Regions from separate parts of the Homo sapiens genome. Here region 2 is linked to region 1. The links come from fine-mapping of genetic effects on gene expression. Tissue or cell type: whole blood. Region 1 holds a variant in brackets; the other region holds the start of a gene. All regions are shown on one strand. Distances are from middle to middle.

Region 1 (5,213 bases):
CTGCAGCCTCAACCTCCTGGGCTCAAGCATCCTCCAGTGTCAGCATCCTGAGTAGCTGAGATTACAGGTGTGAGCTACAGCGCCCGCCCAGGGACAGTTTTTTTGTTTGGTTGTCTTGTTTGTTTTGAGACAGAGTTTCACTCTTGTTGCCCGGGCTGGAGTGCAATGGCGTGATCTCGGCTCCCTGCAACCTCCACCTCCCGGGTTCACACGATTCTCCTGCCTCAGCCTCCCGAGTAGCTCGGATTACAGACATGAGCCACCACTCCTAGGTAATTTTGTATTTTTAGTAGAGACGGATTTCACCATGTTGGTCAGGCTGGTCTCAAACTCCCGACCTCGTGATCCGCCCTCCTCGGCCTCCCAAAGTGCTGGAATTACAGGCGTGAGCCACCGCGACCAACTTGTTTTTGTTTTTATTCAAAGTCTGAGACCGTAGGAGAAAGATGGCTGTGGAGTCGCACATTACCCAGAAGGAAATTAAGAAGGAGCTTCAGAAGCTGATCCTCACAAGCAGACAGGCCCGCTGCCGCCAGTAACAGCCGCCGCCACCGAATGGTCGAGTTCTCCGGATGAAACATACCGTCCAGCGTGCTGGCGACCTACACTTGGATAGATGCAACCTTGAAAGAACTGAGCTTAGTAAAATAAGTCTATCCAGAGGCTAGAAAGAAGGGCACACATTTCAATTTTATAGGTTTTTACAGATATTAAAAGATCTGGCTATCGAGTTAAGGAGATTGGCAGCGCCACATCTGGCAGAAAGGGGACTGGTGATTCCATGACCCCTGCAGTCACAGAAGTTACAACTAGGAGATTATTCGGACATAACGATTACTCCCACTCCTTCAGGGTTCATGAGGTCGTATTATATTCTATTTCCTATTTCTTTTATTCTCTCTCTCTCTTTTTTTTTTTTTTTTTTGAGACGGATTTTTGCTCTTGTTGCCCAGGCTGGAGTGCAATGGCATGATCTCGGCTCACCACCACCTCCGCCTCCCGGGTTCAAGCGATTCTCCTGCCTCAGCCTCCCAAGTAGCTGGAATTACAGGCATACGCCACCACGCTTGGCTAATTTTGTATTTTTAGCAGAGACGGAGTTTCTCCATGTTGGCCAGGCTGGTCTCGAACTTCTGACCTCAGGTGATCCGACAGCCTCGGCCTCCCTAAGTGCTGGGATCACAGGCGTGAGCCACCGCACCTGGCCTCTATTTACTATTTCTTGAATGTATTTTTCAGTCAGTTACGTAAAGTTACATGCTTTTTCCTCCCCTGAAAAAAAAATCCTAAGTCTACATTTTTCACAACAGAGTCAGTCCTCCATATCTGAAGGTTCTGCATCTGTGAATTCAACCAACTTTGGATAGAAAATATTCCCAAAATACCTCCTAAAATAATAATACTAATAAACCAATACAACAATAAAATAATACAAATAAAAATACAGTATAAGAACTATTTACATAGCATTTACATTGATTATGTATATTCTATCAAGAGATGATTTAAAGTATACAGGAGGGCCCGGGTGCGGTGGCTTACGCCTGTAATCCTAGGACTTTGGGAGGCAGAGCTGGGCGGATCACTTGAGTCAGGAGTTCAAGACGAGCCTGGGCCAACATGGTGAAAACTCATCTCTACTAAAAATACAATATATATACGTGTGTGTGTGTGTGTGTGTGTGTATACGTGTGTGTGTGTGTATACATATATATGTGTGTATATATATGTATATATATATACACACATACGTATATATATTTTAGGCGGGCATCTGTAATCCCAGCTACTTGGGAGGCTGAGGCGAGAGAATTGCTTGAACACAGGAGGCAGAGGTTGCAGTGAGCCCAGATCACACAACTGCACTCCAGCCTGGGCGACAGAGCAAGACTCCGTCTCAAATAAATAAATAAACAAGTATACGGGAGGGCCGATGCAGTAGCTCACACCTGTAATCCTAGCGCTTTGGGAGGCTGAGGCAGGGCGGGTGGATCACATGAGGCCAGGAGTTCAAGACCAGCTTGGCCAACATGGCAAAAACTCATCTCTACTAAAAATGAAAAAATTAGCCAGG[C/T]GTGGTGGTGCACGCCTGTAGTTACAGCTACTATGGAGGCAGAGGTGGGAGGATGGCTTGAGCCCAGGAGTTCTAGGCCACTGCACTCCTGGGTGACACAGTGAGGCAACATACAAGGAAGATGCAAATACTACGCCATTTATATCAGGGACCTAAGCATCCTTAGATTTTTGTATCCATGCATGGAGAGGGTGGTCTTGGAACCAAGCCCCACAGATACCTAGGGACGATGTATATTGTTTTGTTTTTCCATATTCAAACTTCCTGTGCATGACCTAGCATTTACTGAAAACATCAGATTTTAGGATGGTATGCAAAATGGGTCCCTACTTGCCTTCAGAAAATGTATTTGTTTATTTGTTTGTTTTTGTTTTTGAACAGTGTCTCGCTCTGTCGCCCAGGCTGGAGTGCAGTGGCTTGATCTTGGCTCACTGCAACCTCCACTTCCCAGGTTCATTCAATTCTCCTGCCTCAGCCTCCCGAGTAGCTGAGATTACAGGTGTGCCATCACGCCCATCTAATTTTTGGGGTACTATTAGTAGAGACAGGGTTCCACCATGTTGGCTGGGCTAGTCCCAAACTCCTGACCTCAAGTGACCCACCTGCCTTGGCCTCCCAAAGTGCTGGGATTATGCGTGAGCCACTGCACAGGGCCAGAAAAGATCTTATATTCAAATTTATATTTGGAAAGATAGATAACATAATTACTATTGGGGCTGGGGTTTGTTGCCCAGGCTGGAGTACAATGGCTTGATCTCAGCTCACCGCAACCTCCACCTCCCGGGTTCAAGTGGGGTGGGAAGACAAAAACATTCTTTTGTTTTCTACTTTGTATCCTTCTGCATTGAACTTAAGAACATGACGATGCATACCTTTTATAATAAAATATATTTCATTATTATTATCATATTGTCATTATAATTAAGTGGGTTAATTTCTTATCTAACTACCAACTATCTATAGAATATCAATAGATACTCAACTGTTGAATATCTATTATGTGTCTGAGATGTTTTAAGTACTTAGAGGCTCCAAGTATTCTTAGTGTCGTAGGCTCCATCCCTCATTACTCTAACACATTAAAAGGTACCCATCTCAAATACAATTTATATATGAACTGAGTTGAAGTTGACTAGTTTTTGTAATGTCACATTTCATAAATATTTATGGCTGGGCACAGTGGCTAATGCCTGTAATCCCAGCACTTTGGGAGGCTGAGGCAGGTAGGTCACCTGAGGTCGGGAGTTCAAGACGAGCCTAACCAACATGGAGAAACACTGTCTCTACTAAAAATACAAAATTAGCCAGGTGTGGTGGTGCATGCCTGTAATCCCAGCTACTTGGGAGGCTGAGGCAGGAGAAACGCTTGAACCCAGGAGGTGGAGGTTGCGGTGAGCCGAGATTGCGCCCTTGTACTCCAGGCTGGGCAACAAGAGCGAAACTCCGTCTCAAAAAAAATAAATTTAAAAAAAAAAATGTATATATAAAGTTATTTATTTATTTATTTTTGAGACAGGGTCTCGATCTGTAGCCCACGCTGGAGTGTCGTGGTGCAATCATGGCTCACTGCAGCTTCCACCTCCCAGGCTCAAGAAATCCTCCCACCTCAGCCTCCTGAGTAGCTCGGACTACAGGCATGCATACCATCACACCTGATTTTCTTTTTTTAATTGTTAATAGAGACGAGGCCTCACTATGTTGCCCAGGCTGGTCTCAAACTCCTGGCCTCAAGTGATCTCCCTGCCTTGGCCTCCCAAAGTGCTGGGATTATAGGTATGAGCCACTGCACCCAGCTAACTTTGATTTTTATCAAGTTTTAAAATATTTTGTAACCAAAGTATTTTTTTTTCTGGTCTCTAACTTTTCATAGGCCCTTGAAAATATCTCATGCCCTAGAAATTGTACATGAAATGGATAAAAATGGCCCCAGGTGCCGAGTACAGTACTAGATGTTTCTGATAGGAAGGCGTATAAAATGATGCCTGCTTTCCAGAAATATATCATCCAGCTCTACATCTTTTCTTTCCTATCCTCGCCCTGTACCTCTTTGTTGTAGTTTTTAAAAAAATTCTGTCCTTACTATCAATTCTTTTTCTTATTCTGCTGGGTTTTGGCATAATCCATTCATTTTCTTGTGAACTCTCTAATTAGAACACAAGTGTTTTAAGGCAGACGAAATGCAGTACAAAAGTAATTACAATCATGCATCATTTAACGATGGGGATACTTTCTGAGAAGTGCATTGTTAGGCAATGTCGCTGTTGTGTGAACGTCATAGAGTGTACTTACACAAACCTAGATGGTGCAGCCTACTAACACCTGGGCTATATGCTATAGCCTATTGCTCCTGGGCTACAAACCTGTACAGTGCGTTACTGTAGTGAATACTGTAGGCAATTGTAACACATGGTAAGTATTTGTGTACCTAAACACAGAAGAGGTACAATAAGACATTGTACAAAGAATAAAAAATGCAACATTTTAAAATAGGGGACTTACCATGAATAAAGCTTGCAGGACTGGAAGTCCCTCTGGGTGTCAGTGAGTGATGAGTGTGAAGGTCTAGCACATTATTGCACACTACTGCAGATGTTATAAACCCAATACACTTAGGTTACACTAACCTTATAAACTATTTTTTCTTCAATAATAAATTGATCTTAGCTTACAGTAACTTTTTACTTTGTAAACGTTTAAATTTTTACAACTTTTTGATTCTTTTGTAACATTTGGCTTAAAAGACAAAAACATTGTACAGCTGTACAAAAAGTACTTGCTTCATATCCTTATTCTAGGGGCTTTTTTCTGTTTTTAATTTTTTGATTAAAATTTTAACTAAAATTTTAAATTATTTATTTATTTATCTTTTGAGATGGAGTCTCACTCTGTCACCCAGGCTGGAGTGCAGTGGCGCCATCTCTGCTCACTGCAGCCTCCGCCTCCTGTCTCCTGGGTTCAAGCAATTCTCCCGCCTCAGCCTCCCAAGTAGCTGGGATTATAGGCATAAGCCACCACGCTCAGCTAATTTTTTGTATTTTTAGTAGAAACGGGGTTTCACCATGTTGGCCAGGCTGGTCTCGAACTCCTGACCTCAGGTGATCCACCCGCCTCGGCCTCCCAAAGTGTTGGGATTACAGGT
Region 2 (5,114 bases), 59 kb after region 1:
GAATATTTGAAGAACCTTTTTCAATCCACTCACAAACCAATCTTAACAGTTTCCTTCTATCTTTAATCAAAATCCGAATACATGCTAATATATTAAACCTGATGATTCCCTCTCTAAAAACCCTGCTATATTTCATTTAGCTACCTCATATAAGAAATACGTCTTTCACACTGGACAGAGTGGCTTATACCGGTAAATCCCAACACTTTGGGGGTGAGGCAGGAGGACTCTGAGACCAGCCTGGGCAACACAGTGAGACCCTGTCTCTATATTAAAAACAAAAGAAAGAAATATGCCTTTCCCATAAAATGAGCTTATAATACGCTCTTCATAATGAATTCCCTAACATGTCCACGAGATCTTAGTTCTTAAGGCAATGAAACTACCTCCTTGCCTTAACTAAACACCAGCTTTTTAGAGTCCTTATCTTTTACCATTACATACTGAAATATTTACAGATTTATTGACGTAATATCTGAGTTGCTTCCAAATAACAAGGTATAAATAAAAATGCCCCCTCCTCCACAAACATACCAGATTTAGGGGTGTAATCCTGGCTATACCAATTTCCGTCTGGGCAAACTCTTTAATTTCCAAGTTTCTATTCCCATAATATCTAACTTGCATAGCTGATGTGACAATTAAATAAAACAATACATGTAAACAATCTCTAATATACATAGTAGGGATTGAAATTGCCAATAATGTGCTCCTTTGATAAGAAAATGATAAAATATCAATAGAACATCATATATACTGAAAATGCACCAATACATCTTCAGATATTACACACAATCAAAACATTTTCCATTTGTCTTTTTATTTAAGAAAACAAGAAATTACTTATCAAGGACAATATGCTCCAAATTTCTACGGCACTTCCAAAATTTTAGGGAAAATATCAGACTCCCATTAAAAAAAAAAATCAAACAAGATTCTGATTTCACTTTGACTTTTAAGGTTTAAAGCTACTTAATTGTGGCTACTCCCCCTAAGGATCTCAAACAGGAAATAACTAAAGTTAATGGTAAATATACACTTAGCATAACACTAAGGTTAAAAATTACGTGCATTCATTTGTATTCACTGCTTACTGAAACTTCTGTTTTGCAAAACAAGAATTTTGCATAATATACATTTGTAATCTTTTGAAAATAACTGTTATTCATTCTATAGTTAAAATCCTTCTAAGGGTTCTTTGATCAAAAAATTGACTGGGCACTTATTTTGTGCCAGGCACTGTTCCATTTACTTTGTTTATACAAATGCTGAGTTATCACTTCCATTTTACTTTAGGAATAAAGTTTATGAGCAGTCTTGAGTATTCCCAGAGGTGTACAAGTGTTTTTTTCTTATTATGTGAAAGGCAACTGATTGAACGCTTTGATTCCATTTAAGCAAGACAAAAACCAAGTATGTGAACTATGACGTTCAGAACTTAACAAGTTTGAAAGTCTCAGAGGTAAGCAGCTTCCAGGGAAGATAACGCCAGAGCAAGTTCCATGGTCTCTACCCAGTGAAGGAGTTCAGCGGTCCTGTTATCTTGAATTTATTTAACGCTGTAGTTCACTACCTTCCAAACAGAAAACAAGTCTCTAGACAGCCTATTTTGACGAGCCTCCCACCCACCGACACTACTCATCTTTGGAAGTTGAAGATAGGCGGAGCTCCCCACATTGACACCTGCAGTAGGCCCAGGTTCCTGCTTGGAGAGCACCTGAGTAGCTAATAGCCAACTACAGATCGCCTGGATAAGCAGCACTCGCCAGGTCCCTTGGCCTTTCCAACCTCCTCCCCCGAACCTGCCTTGCTTTGACCGAGACCCCCAGGACTGCCAGGACGGAGACCAGGCGGAACCGCGGCCTCCAGTACACTTTCCACGGCGCCATCTTGAGAAGGGAAAGGGTGACACCCGTCGCTCCCTCAGTCAGTCCCCAAATCCCGGTCTCCAGAGCCCCTGGAGGATGAGTCACCAGGGCTGGCAGAACAAGACGCCGGGTTCGATAGTTCTCTGGTCCAGGGCACTGCTGCGCGTGAGGGAGAAGGGGTGGGGGGTCTCAGTACCGGCAGGGCCGCGGACAGGCTGGGGACCGCGGATAACCTGGGGTCCAGGCCCCCGCTGCGCAGGAGGAGGGGCGGTTCGGTTACCTGAGACCGCAGCAAGCCGAGCTGCGGGGCCGAAGCTTCCTGGCAGCAAGGCCCAGGCGTGGCCCGTAGGATGAGAGTGTATCTATGGCGGTGGTGGTGGCGGCGGCGGCGTCGCCTGCTCTTAGCGCCGCTCCCCTCACACTGGACTGTGCGGGGCTCGTGCCGTGGTGCCGCCCCTGTCGGGCTCCGTCTCCGCCTCTCGCCGCTCCCCCTTCCTCTTTCCTTTCTCCTCCTCCGCCGCCGCCGCCGCCGCCGGCGCTGGAGTTCCGACTAATTCTTCCTCCTCCTCCTCCCTCTGCCTCCTCCCCTAAGGCCAGCCGCCGGCTCCTTCACGAACCAAAACACAAACACTCAAGTCCCACCGCCGGAGCCACTTCCGCTGCCCGGTGCCGGCCCCGCCGCCACGTCGCTGCACGCAGCGAACTGCGCCACTTCGTCACTTCCCATCATCGCCAGTCCGCCTGCTCCTTCCGCTTCCTCGCCCCTTCCCGAATCCCTCCCCGCCTAGGTTTGTTCGCGGGGCGGGGCGAGGCAGGATGTCACGTGACCCTGCGAGTGGCTCAGATCCGAACTGGCCGCCTTTCTCCCCTTCCCCCACCCCAGGTACGCGCGGCCACGCCCTCTCCAGCGCCATTGTTATTTAGGCTGGGGGGTCTCTGGGCTCCTGGCGGCCGGGGTCGGGGGAAATTCCTTTACTATTCTTTGGGGGAAGATCAAAATAACTTGTGTTTTTTTGTTTGTTTTTTGTGCCCAGCCCTTGTGGGAGCGGCGAGGTTCCCTAACCCCAATCCTGGCATCTCGGCTAAGGGGCTTTATTAGAGGGAACTTGTCTAGCACGAGAGAACCTCCTCCCACAAAATGGCCCTGGGGTTGGGTAGGTCGGTAAAGGCTGCTAAATCGCATTTACCCCAAGGAGGAAGAAAGGACCCTCCCTATCCCAAAAGCCGCCTTTAGGCGCCTGACAATAAGAAGTCGCTTCTGTTAAGAGTTTACGTGGTTTTGGTAGGGGGCGGGGAAGGCCAAATCCTAAAATAGTGTCTGCCTTTTATTCAGAATTTCCCTTCGCTCTTTACTGTACTAAACGCTTTACAGGAATTATCCCATTGAATTCTTACACTCGAGTCTTTCATTCTGAAACTAACTTGTTAATCGTCTGTTCCCTACATTCGAATTTTAGCTCCCCTTGGTGGTCCTCACCGCTGTAAATCTATGTCTAGCCCAGTGCCTGGCAGCCAAGTCTTCAGTTCTAGTTGTAGATGTTTTATAGGTAAAGAATTTGAGACACAAGAGATTGAGTAACTTGTCCGAGATCACGGCTGTGTGGTGCAGAAGCTGGATTCTGATCTGCGGCGGGTTGGCTCCAGAACGTGAGTTGTTGAACACAATTCTGGTGAAAGACAACCCAAGATGTTCGTTACCCTCCACGGGGGACCTACTGAAGATGTGCTGCTTTAGTTGAATCCCACACCACATTCAGTCTCTGGCGAGGCTTCAGCCACCACCCCCTCCCCAGCCTCCGCCAAAAAAATTGTTTTGATAATTTAGTGGAAGAATATTAAATTGATTTTCCTTCAGAATAAAGGCTACTTTTCAGTTTGCAGTTTACAATGTATAGCTCTGTTGTAAGGGCGAGAATATTGTCTTTGAAGTGTACCGGGTTAAGGTATCTTATGGGCGTACAGTCGGCGGCATTGTGCAATTAAGATGATTTGAACTTTGAACAGCCCGTCTTTCAGATCAACTACCTAGTTGCCAGAAGAACGTAATGTGTCATACGTAAATGATACCTGTGGCATTTTATTCTCAAGGAGTTGTTCAATATGAACTATTAATCATGGTAATAGCTCTGGGACAATCCCAGGAGGAGTCAGGAAATAGGATATGTGACATCAGTTTTGTCATGTCAACAGTATGCCCAAAACGAAACCTATTCCACTCCAAACCTGCTTCTGCTTAGAGACTGGCATTAACATCCTCCCAGTCACCCAGACTTGGAACTGCAGAATCAGCTTCACCTCTTTCTTCTCCTCACAAACCATTGTCCATTCTATCAACAAATTATCTAATCCCCAAATTTGAAGTCTAATCCCAACACCTGGTCCATGGTAGTGTTTATATAAACTGAAATTAATGCATACTGCTGTTCTTTCTGTCCATTCTTTACATTTTAGCCACTCTACTAAAAAATGTTCAATGCTATGTCATTACTTGACAGTCTAAAGTTCTTTAACTCTAGTCCCAACCCAAGTTTCTTTCATTCTATTTCTATAGAATTCCTCTCCCCATACTCTTTATTTGTTCCCTGATCACACGTATCTGGTCTGTGTTCCCTGAATATTGCCTGTGTGTTGCCATCTTGGTATCTGATCACTTTATTTTCTCCACATGGAACACTATCATTGCCCATAACTGCTGGCTCCGTCTTAGCCAGGACACCAGTTCCTTTGGACCGCATCTGCAGATACTTCTACTGGATTCAATTATTATTTTTTCTGTAATTTCACAATACTTTGCCTTACTCTGTATAATGGCTGTCTTAAAATCTGCCTTATTTTAATAGCTAATGAGCACCTGGACTTTTCTCCTTAGCCTTTCATTGAATTATAAGGTTTTTAAGGGCTGTGACCATCAGTTATTCATCATTTCAGTTCTTCACAGAAGACCCTTGACTGCTATAATAGGGACCCCCAAAGTATTGGTGAACTTAATTACATTTAGAATCACGAACATTAAGAAGACCTCACAATGAAAAACATTTGATGCTGAAATTTATAAATTGCAAAAAACTCCCTATTTCATCGTTCCAGTATGTTGCTTCTTCACTCGTTCCTGTTTAGTGATTTTGTCTTCACCTCCTTCATGAATACTTTTCACAATATTTTACAGTTTAGTCATAATGTTTGCCTGGAAGAGTGCTGCCCTGGTGGCTGGCATTTCTAAAGATCCGGTAGTAGTTTTAGAGAAAT

What was found. PIP is the estimated chance that this variant, and not a neighbour inherited with it, causes the effect.
Region 2: RAB5A starts here. The variant in region 1 is fine-mapped to the expression of RAB5A in whole blood (TOPMed, PIP 0.97).

Annotation. Positions count from the first base shown.
Region 1 is chr3:20,003,481-20,008,693 of GRCh38, reverse strand. All of the region lies in intron 1 of PP2D1 (protein phosphatase 2C like domain containing 1), which reads left to right. It overlaps LOC124909352 (a long non-coding RNA gene), which reads right to left. Exons shown (of 2, transcript XR_007095843.1): 2 at 398-602. It also overlaps the pseudogene SAP18P3. Among named protein-coding and RNA genes, the nearest start is that of PP2D1, 6.2 kb to the left of the region's middle. The variant C/T (reference allele first, on the strand shown) is at 2,075.
Region 2 is chr3:19,944,556-19,949,669 of GRCh38, reverse strand. It overlaps RAB5A (RAB5A, member RAS oncogene family), which reads right to left and starts at 2,573. Exons shown (of 6, transcript NM_004162.5): 1 at 2,149-2,573. It also overlaps a transcript of EFHB not described here. RefSeq lists enhancers at 1,289-1,888, 1,935-1,984, 2,505-2,554, 2,416-2,585, 2,511-2,680 and 1 more.